2 linked regions of the Homo sapiens genome follow. The protein of the gene in region 2 purifies or fractionates together with the protein of the main gene of each other region. This does not show direct contact. Each region holds a gene or a part of one and is shown on either strand. Other genes may lie near its edges.

Region 1 (5,476 bases), about 140 Mb from region 2:
CCAGCCTGGGCAACAGAGTAAAAAAAAGACTGGAAAGATGGGTTTCTGATTGTGCAGGGGCCTGAATGCTGTGTGAGGGAGTTTAAACTTTTATCCCTTTGGTGGTGGTTTGGGTGCGACGCGATTAGATGTGTTTCAGAAAAGTGGTCGTGGTGAGAATATGGGAGGTGGGTTTTGCCTCTGGGCAGTGGAGCTGAGTTGAGTAGCCTTGTGGGGCGTGGGTCTGGGGCAGTGAGAGAGTGGGGGCGGGCATGGAGCTGAAAGATGTTGCCAAATCCACTGGGCGGTGGCGCTTTGTGAGATGTGGCGACCTGTAACAGCGAGGGCAGCCGGGACTTCTCACCTGCGATGAGGAGCGCTGCGGCCAGGTGGGAGAGGAAGGGCCACACAAACACACGTGGGTTTTAGACCTGCAGAGTTGGCGGTATTGGTGGCCATCCTGGAGGAGATGTGACCTGGTGGAGAAGAGACAGCCTGTACAAGGAGGGAATCCCCAGGAACCCCAGTGGGAAGGGATCCAGAGCTGAAGAGAGGCCCGTTGGTTGGCTGACCTTGGGCGTGCAGTTCCTTGACTACGCACAGTCATTGAGGCTGGCAGGTGATTCTCTTCTAGTGTGGGTCAGGGGCTGAAGGAGCCATCAGTGGGAAAAGACGGGTTATTGATGATACTGAAACACATGCGGCTTGTTTGTCATTTAAAAAAACCGTACATCTTGAGTTTCGATTCTTAAGTTGTCTTTCTTTTCGGAGAGTAGCTGTTAGTTTCACACTTGCTTAGTGGGTCTGTGGCTGCAGGCGGGACTGTGGTTCTCCAGCCCTGGCCCACAGATGTGCCTGGAGATAATTGACTCTCCAACTTATTACTTCCTGCTGTTAAGGTGGTGGTTTCTGTAACTGTTTAGAAACTTTAAAGATATTTCAGAGAAGAATGGGAGACAGGTACAGTTGAGTACGGGGTGGGGGCACAGTTGAGTATGGGGTGGGGGCACAGTTGAGTACGGGGTGGGGGAACAGTTGAGTATGGGGTGGGGGCACAGTTGAGTACGGGGTGGGGGCACAGTTGAGTACGGGGTGGGGGCACAGTTGAGTACGGGGTGGGGGCGCGGTTGAGTATGGGGTGGGGGCGCAGTGCTGAACAGGGCACAGGAGGAGGAAGCGAACAGGGACCCTTTGGCTCCCAGAACATGACCAGCTGGGGCTTTTCCCTGTAGACAGGAGGATGGATGTGTCTTTGGGGAATCTGAGTAGCCCAAGAGAAAAGACCTAAAATTAATGACATCAGGAGGTCCCCAGTCAGCAGACCCAGCTGGATCCCTTGCTAACGAAGCCCGTCATTAATAACCCCCTCCCAGTGTTCAAGGCATCAAGCTTTAAAAATCCCCATCCCTTAAATATGAGCAGATAACCAAGGGCATCTGAAGAAAACCTCTGCTACAGGAGATTGAGACCAGAATACACACTGGGAAACCAGAGAGCGTGCAGGAAGGAGCCTTAGAAAGCAGGCTGTCATTAATGTCCACGCGGAGGTGAGCGAAAATATCGCGAACATGAGGCAAGAACAGGAAGCTCTAAAAAAAAGCCACCAAAAGGAGTATTCGAATATCCAAAAAGAGAACTCTCGGATGTAAAAAAAAAAAATAAAAGCAGAAATAAGAAAATCAGTTAGTGGGTGAAAGATAAAGTTGAGGAACTCCCTCAGAAAGTAGAACAGAAAAGCAACGAGGTGGCAAATGAGAGAAAAAAGAAACGGAAAGGATCAGATCAGGAAGTCAGCAGCTGAATAGTAAGAGCTTCAAAGCTGAGGTGAGAGGATCGTTTGAGGCCAGGAGTTCAAGACCAGCCTGGGCAACATAGCAAGACCCCCATCTCTACAACAAAATTTAAAAATTAGCCAGGTGTGGTGGTGTGCACCTGTAGTCCCAGCTACTTGGGAGGCTGAGGTGGGAGGATCACTTGAGCCCAGGAGTTTGAGGCTGCAGTGAGCTGTGATCATGCCACTGCCATCCAGCCTGGGTGACAGAGCAAGACCCCATCTCTAAAAAATAAAATAAAATACATTTTAAAAAGTTTCCAGAAGAAAAAAATAGGGAAAACAGGATGAAATTCACAAAATAATTTCCTAGAACCCAAACTTTCTGGGTTAAAGAGGCTCACCCAGTGGCCAGTACCACGGGTGAAAATGCAGGTATCCTTCACTTTCATAGCCTCTTCACTTCTCAGCTTGGATATTAAAAGCTTGGGAAGGCTGGGTGTGGTGGCTCATGCCTGTAATCCCAGCAATTTAGGAGGTAGGTGAATCACTGAGGTCAGGAGTTCGAGACCAGCCTGGCCATCATGATGAAACCCCATCTCTACTAAAAATACAAAAATTAGCCAAGCATGGTGGTGGGTGCCTGTAATCCCATACTCAGGAGGCTGAGGCAGGAGAATTGCTTGAACCCAGGAGGCGGGGGTTGCTGTGAGCCCAGATCGTGCCACTGCACTCCAGCCTGGGCAATAGAATGAGACTCCGTCTCAAAAATAAAATTTAAAAAATTAAAAGTCTGGGCAGCAAACTTGGATAGTGAGAGAGGCTGAGTTTCAGATAAAGACTAGTGAGAGCTTGGGAGGGGAAGGATTTATTTGAAAGCATGTCTGCAGCTGTTGACCCCAGAATTTGGATAGTGAGAGTTCAGAGGCCAGGCGCTGTGGCTCACGCCTGTAATCCCAGCACTTTGGGTGGCCGAGGTGGACGGATCACTTGAGGCCAGGAGTTTGAGACCAGCCTGGCCAACATAGTGAAACCCTGGCTAATACAAAAATTAGCCAGGTATGGTGGCAGGTGCCTGTAATCCCAGCTGCCCAGGAGGCTGAGACAGGAGAATTGCTTGAACCTGGGAGGCGGAGGTAACGGTAAGTGGAGATCATGCCATTGCACTCCAGCCCGGGCAACAAGGGTGAGACTCCGTCTCAAAAAAAAAAAAAAAAAAAAAAAAAAAAGATCCTTGCGTACCCTCTCCAGGACATACTGTTGTGAAATCTCAGAACAAGAGGAGAAAGTAAAAACAAATCACAAATAGGTCATCACAGGTCAAGAGGCAGAAGGTTAGAACATGTGGAAAAAGGCAGAAGAACTAACTACAATTAAAATGAAAAGAAGCAGAAGGGCTTGGGCTTTTTCAAAGCAGCACTGGGTGGCAGGAGACGGGAGGGCCTTGCTTGAGAAATTCTGAAGGATGCATTTGCAGCCTGGAAGTCTACACTCAGGCAAGGGAGGGTAGGGTAAAGACAACTTCAGACTTGCTCCCAGATTTGTTCCTCATGCTTTAAGGAGGTGATTGGCAGATGTAGTCTCCCCAGATGAGGCAGTAAGTCTAGACTGAGAGAGACTGGCTGGTGGGAACAGGATTTCCCCCAGGTGAGAGGTGAGAAGAACCTGCTGAAGGGAAATCCCAGCCAGGTGCTGGTGTGAAGAGCAGACATGTCCTGACCCCAGCTGGTCAGAGGCTCCAAGAGGAGATTCTTTGGGAGAAGATGAAATTAGCAGGACACCTGACATGCTGCAGCATCTGGAGAGGAGTTGATACAGTTGGCAGAGTTGGGGCGGGATTAGTGATAAGTACTAAACAAAGCAAATGAAAACACAAGGCTGTTATTAGTTCCAGGGAAAATAAACCATCGTGCGGGAAACGAAAAATAATTATGGTGTACTACAAGGCGCAGCTGTGGATAGCCTCGCCGCAATGATAGTAATTTATGTAAACACTGACTGCTGCTCTAATTGAAATTATGATGCACCTGGGCAGAGAAGGTGTGGGGAGGAGAGCGCTGCATTTTCGCCTGTCGCCTTGGGAAGTCAGTCGCTAATGCCCCAAGCTGAACAACCAAGGTTCACTCTGAAGGCAGACATTAAAAGAATTAGCTAAAAAGAATTATGGAGCGGGTAGGGCGTGGTGGTTCGCACCTGTAATCCCAGCACTTCAGGAGGCCGAGGCAGGAGGATTGCTTGAGTCCAGGAGTTCAAGACCAGCCTGGGCAACATGGCGAAACCCTGTCTCTACTGAAAATACAAAAATTAGCCAGACATGGTGGCCTGTGTCTGTCTCAGCTCCTTGGGAGGCTGAGGTGGGAGGATCACTTCACTTGAGCCCAGGAGGTGGAGATTTTAGTGAGCTGAGATCGAGCCATCACACTCCACTCTAGCCTGGGTGACAGAGCAAGATCCTGTCTCAAAGAAAAAAAAAAAAAAAGAATCATGGAGAAGGGCGGAGGTGAGAAAGGGAAGCAGGGACAGAGACTGTTGAGTTTCTTAATAAACTTCACCTCACGGAATGATTTCACTCTTTCATGGATATGTATGTGTGGCATTGAATTGACCCAAATGGGAACAGTCTCAGATGGGCTTTCTGCTCTGATGGAATGGCGGCCCTCGCCTGCCTCTGTGCACAGGCCCTGTTAACAGGGAGGGTTTCCTTGCTCTGATTTCCTCTTGGTTATTGTCATTGTTCTCTGTATGCTGTCTCGTCGTTGTGGTCATTTATCAGAGATTCTGAGCACTTTTTTTTTTTTTCCTTTCAGGCAGAGTCTCACTCTGTCACTCAGGCTGGAGTGCAGTGATATGATCTCATTGCAGCCTCTGTTTCCTGAGTTCAAGCAATTATGATTACAGGCCTGAGCCGCCACGCCCGGCCGAGCGCTTTCTTTCGTCGTTTTCCAAGGGGGTTTTAAAACATACCGACCAGTAGAGAGAGCAGTATTATACATCATCCTTCACCTGTCCCCAAGTTTCAGAAATTAGGCAATCAGAGTTTGTCTGGTTTTTGTTAGAACATCACCTCTTTCTTGAGCAAGTACTGAGTGCCAGATGCTACTGTAAGCCTTGAGAATACCCGCTGTGAGGCAGGACGAGGACCTCCCTTTTAAGTCAGTGCAGGAAGACAGTGAGTGGATTAACTGGTGTATATGAGCTATTTGAGGCCAGGCATGGTGGCTCACGCCTGTAATCCTGACATTTTGGGAGGCTGAGGCAGGAGGATGGCTTGAGCCCAGCAGTTCAGGGATTCTGCGATTGCACCACTGCACTCCAGCCTGGGTGACACAGTGAGACACTACTCTAAAAATAATAAATAAAAGATTTGAGGTAGGGATGGGATAAATGCTGCTATGAAGAAAACCAGGGTATGGGGAGTGCAGGGTAGAGACTGGGATCTACTTTCTCAGGGTGGTTAGGGAAGGCTTGCTGAGGAGGTGAGCGTCAAGCAGAGATCTGAAGGAAGCGTGGGACTGCCCTGGGATTCCCCAGCTGAGGGATGGTGGTGCAGAGGCCCAGCAGCAGGAGCCTGCTGGGTGCGGTGGATGAACGGCAAGGAGACTGTTGAGGCTGGAGAGGGTCGCCGAGGGGGACTGTGATAGAAGAGGAGATCAGTGGAGTCCTGGTCACGGGCCATCAGAAGGACTCGAGATAGGAAGCCACTGATCCAACTTTTAATAGAATAAC
Region 2 (5,004 bases):
AAAAAATTAGCTGGGCCTGGTGGCAGGCACATGCAATCCCAGCTACTCAGAAGGCTGAGGCAGGAGAATCACTTGAACCCGGGAGGTGGAGGTTGCAGTGAGCTGAAATTGCGCCTTTGCACTCCAGCCCAGGCAACAGTATGAGAGACTCCATCTCAAAAAAAAAAAAATAGAAAGAAAGAAAAGGATTCAAATACCATACCTTAAAACTAACTGTGGCCAGGCGCAGTGGCTCACACCGGTAATCCCAGCACTTTGGGAGGCCGAGGCGGGCAGATCACCTGAGGTAGGGAGTTCGAGACCTTCCTGACCAACAGAAAGAAACCCTTTCTCTATTAAAAATACAAAATTAGCTGGGTGTGGTGGCACATGCCTGTAATTCCAGCTACTCGGGAGGCTGAGACAGGAGAATCACTTGAACCCAGGAGGTGGAGGTTGTAGGTGAGCTGAGATCGTGCCATTGCCCTCCCGTCTGGGCAACAAGAGTGAGACTCCATCTCAAAAAAAAAAAAGTGATTATCACTGGATGGTGGAATTATTAGCCTTTTTGGGGTTTTGTATTTTTCTATATTTTCTACTTTGTAATAAGAAAAAATATTTAAGGGATTCCCTGTTTTCTGCAAGAATTTATCTCTTTTAACACTGCGGAGGTCAGGCGGGTGGTGGTGGCAAGGAAATGGAAGTAATGGAAACAACTCAGTTATTTCCACTCAAGCCTGCCCGGGAGGCAATTCTCACCCCAGCCGCCCTCCCCATTCATTCCCACAGAGCTGGAGATGGCTTCTCTTTTTGCCAGGAAACCAAGAGGCTGCTCCCCCAAAATAGCCAGGAGGGAGGAGATTAGTGATGGTTTTTTCCATTCAAGCATCATTCTTTGGATCTCACGTCAATGGGTTCAAGGTGGGGTGAGCAGGGTCACCTGCCTACTTGAATCTTTCCTTACTCACCTTCAAGCGACCTCCGTACCACTCCCTAGTCCCTTGTCATCTGGCTTGGACCATCAGGAAGTGTGTAAGAGATGGTGTCTGCTGTATGTGAGACAGCATCCATGTGGGCATGTCTGCTAACACGAGTAAACTCTGTGGGAAAGCATCTCTTTGTGTGTTTCTGTCTGCAGTTCCCTCTTGCAGAAAGGGTGCCTGTCTCCGCAGTGTCCTTGGACCTGCATGTGGTATTTCATTCAGGTCTGGTATGCATGGATGAGCAGGAGCAGTGTGAACTGGTTATGAGAGTTCAGGAGTGACTAAAGTCTTCTCTTACCTGTCTTAGCAGCCATCCTGCATCTAATGGCCTATGTCTCTGTTGCTGGTTTTCGAAAAAAGGCCTTCATTCTGTCTCCCTAACTCACAACCCTCCAACCATCTCTGCCCAAGAAGCAGTTGGGGGTGATTACCCACAGCCGGTTACTGCCAACAGATCTGTGCTCACCAGGCTCATGGGCAGGAGGCGCATCCAAGTACTGAGGCAGGATTCTCCCAGATCTGTTATTTGGGATCCTAGACTCCCTGCCGCACTGCGGCTTCTCTGCAGACTCTAACTCCTTTTGCCAAGCAATGAGGTTGGAGATGAGCCTCTAACAACCTTTTCTTTCGTCTAAGAGTACAGAAAGGTGTAAAATGAAAGAAGAGGGTGTTTCAACCTGGTGGTACAAGAGGACAAAGGCTAGAAAAGTGGGAAAACCAGGGGAGGGTGAAGAGAGGGTGTGAATGGGCTCTACCAGCTGCAAGGCACCCTGCTCTTTGTCTCTCGCTCTCTCTCCGTTCACTCTCTCTTCATCTGTCTCTCTGTCTCTGCGTCTCTATCTCTCTGTCTCTACCCCTCAGTTTCTGCCTGTCTCGGTCTCTTTCTTTCTCTCTTTTTCTATGTCTCTGTCTGTCTCTGCCTGTCTATGCCTGTCTCTGTCTCTGTGTCTTTTATACACACACACAGCATGTGCTTTTACCCATCCTTACCCTATGCTCCTCCCCATCTTTATTTTCTGGCAGACCCATGCTTCATGTAGAGCAGCATGTTCATACCCACGACTTGAGAATCCTGTCCGGCTCATCTGTTCTGGGCCTCATCCTATGCAAACCACTCTTGTTACAGAAAGGCCACATAGAATAGTGGGAAGATATCATATTTAAAAGTAAAAGTTAATCAAGAGTCCTTTTCTGCCCCTTAGTATTTGGGCGATTTTGAGTGAGAGAGTCATTTTTTCTGTGAGCCTCAGTTTCCTCATGAATGTAATAGATATGAGAACACTATGATTTTGCAGTCCTGGTTTCTACGTGGATCTAATGGTGTAATGGATATGAATGTACATTGCAAGCTGTTAAGTCATTTCTGCTAAATACAGAATGACCCACTGTGGTCATCTTGGAAGCCTCGGCCATCCCTGCTGGCTGTGCTCCATTCTTGTGCCTCGCCATTGGAACGCTCTAGTGAGCCGGAATGAAGTTCAGGCCCATGGCTGTGATGTCACAGAACATGTGAAGTCAGAGGTCCTATGGAAGGTGAGGGGAGAAAATGCCCCTGGAAAGGGTTAAGGGCCAGGACAGGAATGGGGCAGGAGGTGCACGGATCCTGCTGGGCACTGGGAGCAGGGGGCGGCCAAAGGCAGTGGGTGGGCAGGTCCATGCCTCCCCTGGCCCCCCAGCTCTGCAGGGCAGTGTTCCTGGTTCCTATCTTGCTGCTGCTGCAGGTGAAGCCTCTGAACGGGAGCCCAGGCCCCAAAGATGGGAGCCAGACAGAGAAAACGCCCTCTGCAGGTAGGTGGAAAAAAAGACAGGAGCCATACAGAGAAAACACCCTCTTCAGGTAGGTAGAAAAAAAGACGGGAGAGTCTGGAGGCTCAGGGTGAGGTCTGTGTGAGGCCAGGCCCCAGGTCACTGATGAGGCTAGGGTGAGACCTGACATAGGTCTGGTTTATGGGGGGTAACTCCAGCCACTGATGGTTATCATGTGAAATAATAGTGTCGGCTCACCATGGGCCAGCTGAGCTTGCATGCAACTTCTGTGTGTGTAAGCATGGTGCATTTGGCTGGCTTTTGTCATGCTTCAAGGTGGCCCCTGACTCCCCCAGTGTTGAAACCCTAGAGGAGGCAGCTAACCTTAGGAATGGTGTGTGTGTGTGTGTGTGTGTGTGTGTGTGTGTGTGTGTGTGTGTGTGTGTTTGAGTTGGGGCTGTGATTGAACACAGACCAGAAAAAACCTCTAGAAAGAGCATCCCCTCTCTGGTGAAGGCTAAGGATATGGGCAATTGGGACTGCAGCCCTAGGCTTCAACGTGTTTTTCCTATTCTAACTTCTCCTTTCTGGTTCAGGCCAGGGTCAGGGCTCAGTCCTTGTCCTTTTCCCCTGTTCCAGACCAGAATCAAGAACAGTTCGAAGAGCACTTTGTGGCCTCCTCAGTGGGTGAGATGTGGCAGGTGGTGGACATGGCCCAGCAGGAAGAAGACCAGTCGTCCAAGACGGCAGCTGTTCACAAGCACTCTTTCCACCTCAGCTTCTGCTTTAGTCTGGCCAGTGTCATGGTTTTCTCAGGAGGGCCATTGAGGCGGACATTCCCAAATATCCAACTCTGCTTCATGCTCACTCACTGACCCTCCCTCCCTCCTGGGCTCCAGGTCACAACTCCCAAAGGAGATGCAGGCATGGCTCTCTGCCTCTGATCACCATCACTGTATCTCAAGGTTCAGCAGCAGAGATACCAGTTGCCATCAGTGCTAACTGACTGCCTCTCCAGGTTCGGAGTTTCATCTCCCAGGGCCAGAGACAGCAGACCCACATCCTTCTCTCCCACACCTCTCCTGGTTTTGTTCAGGACAGCAGATTAGAGGCAGGAGGCAATGACAATAAAATAACGATAAAATCCTGAGAACAATTGGGAGCAGCTTTCCGATACTTAATCCAAGCCCTTCTCGTCTCCAACTAGACTGCTTTATTGTCCAATCTTTGGTCCACTGGGTGGCCTTCAAACCCACCAGGTCACCAATTGTTGATTCTTTCCTTTTCTTGTGTCCATGAAACATTTTTGGCATTTCTCCCTCTTATCTTTTCTAACTTCAGGGTATTTTTCTCCCGTACAGTTAATGACTTCCAGGCATAGAACATAGCAGGAACAAGTCATTAAGAGACAAGCGGAAGCCAAGTGCCAGCTTTTATTTTTGGAACAGAAGCAGAAAGGAAATCTTGCTCTGATTCCATGGATGTGACCAGGGAGGTGTTGGTCGATATTTCTGTGCTGTGGCATCTTTGGTAACCAAGTTACCAGAGCTGGCAGCGGCTGGAGGGGTTCAAGAGAGCACCACGTGCACAGCGGAAATACCTGGCAAAGGCTGGGGTGCTGCTGAGGGGCCCGTGGACTCGGAGGTGTGGAGGGCTGTGAGTGTCGTGAGAGTCCTGGGGGCTGGGCTTCCTACACATCACCTGAGCAGGAAGAGAGGTCATTGAAGGGGGAGGGTCCACAGGACAAAGCTGACCCGGTGACAAGGGGTGATCAGGGACAGCAGACAAAGAGGGGAACCAGGGGATCAAGTGCCCCAAGGGCCACATGGAGCATTTGAAATGTATAGTTCATTTAATCTGGCAATAGGAGTCCAGGAGGAGGGCCTGGGCTGTGTAATGATACCATTTATCAATGACAGAGAGGCAGGGTCTAGCGCAGGAGCTCTGGGGTGAAGTCTAATCTAAGCGTGTTGAAGACCTGGCACCTGAGTCTGTTGAGGGAGTACAGGGTGCTTAAGGAGGTGATGTCAAGTGGGCGCCACACCTAAGGTCAGGTGTCTGAAGAGGAATGTGGCACACAGTCAGCCTGTCGCAGGCTTTTTTTTTTTTTTTGTGAGACTGAGTCTTGCTCTACCACCCAGCCTGGAGTGCAGTGGCATGATCTTGGCTCACTGCAACCTCCGCCTCCCAGGTTCAAGCGATTCTCGTGCCTCAGCCTCTCAAGTAGCTGGGATTACAGGCGCCCGCCACCAAGCCCAGCTAAGTTTTGTATTTTTAGTAGAGACGGGGTTTCACC

Evidence for each region.
Region 1: the proteins of LLCFC1 (region 2) and CHST12 purify together in Homo sapiens (affinity purification with mass spectrometry; one large-scale study listed by BioGRID and IntAct). This does not show direct contact.

Annotation. Positions count from the first base shown.
Region 1 is NC_000007.14:2,405,412-2,410,887, forward strand, and holds part of CHST12 (carbohydrate sulfotransferase 12), read left to right. Parts: intron 1-5,476. UniProt on the Homo sapiens protein: Catalyzes the transfer of sulfate to position 4 of the N-acetylgalactosamine (GalNAc) residue of chondroitin and desulfated dermatan sulfate.
Region 2 is NC_000007.14:142,937,005-142,942,008, forward strand, and holds LLCFC1 (sperm-egg fusion protein LLCFC1 precursor), read left to right. Parts: upstream 1-2,479; 5' UTR 2,480-2,617; coding exon 2,618-2,750; intron 2,751-3,347; coding exon 3,348-3,583; 3' UTR 3,584-3,864; downstream 3,865-5,004. Other genes in the region: KEL (kell blood group glycoprotein), read right to left, coding at 4,248-4,409. UniProt on the Homo sapiens protein: Sperm protein required for fusion of sperm with the egg membrane during fertilization.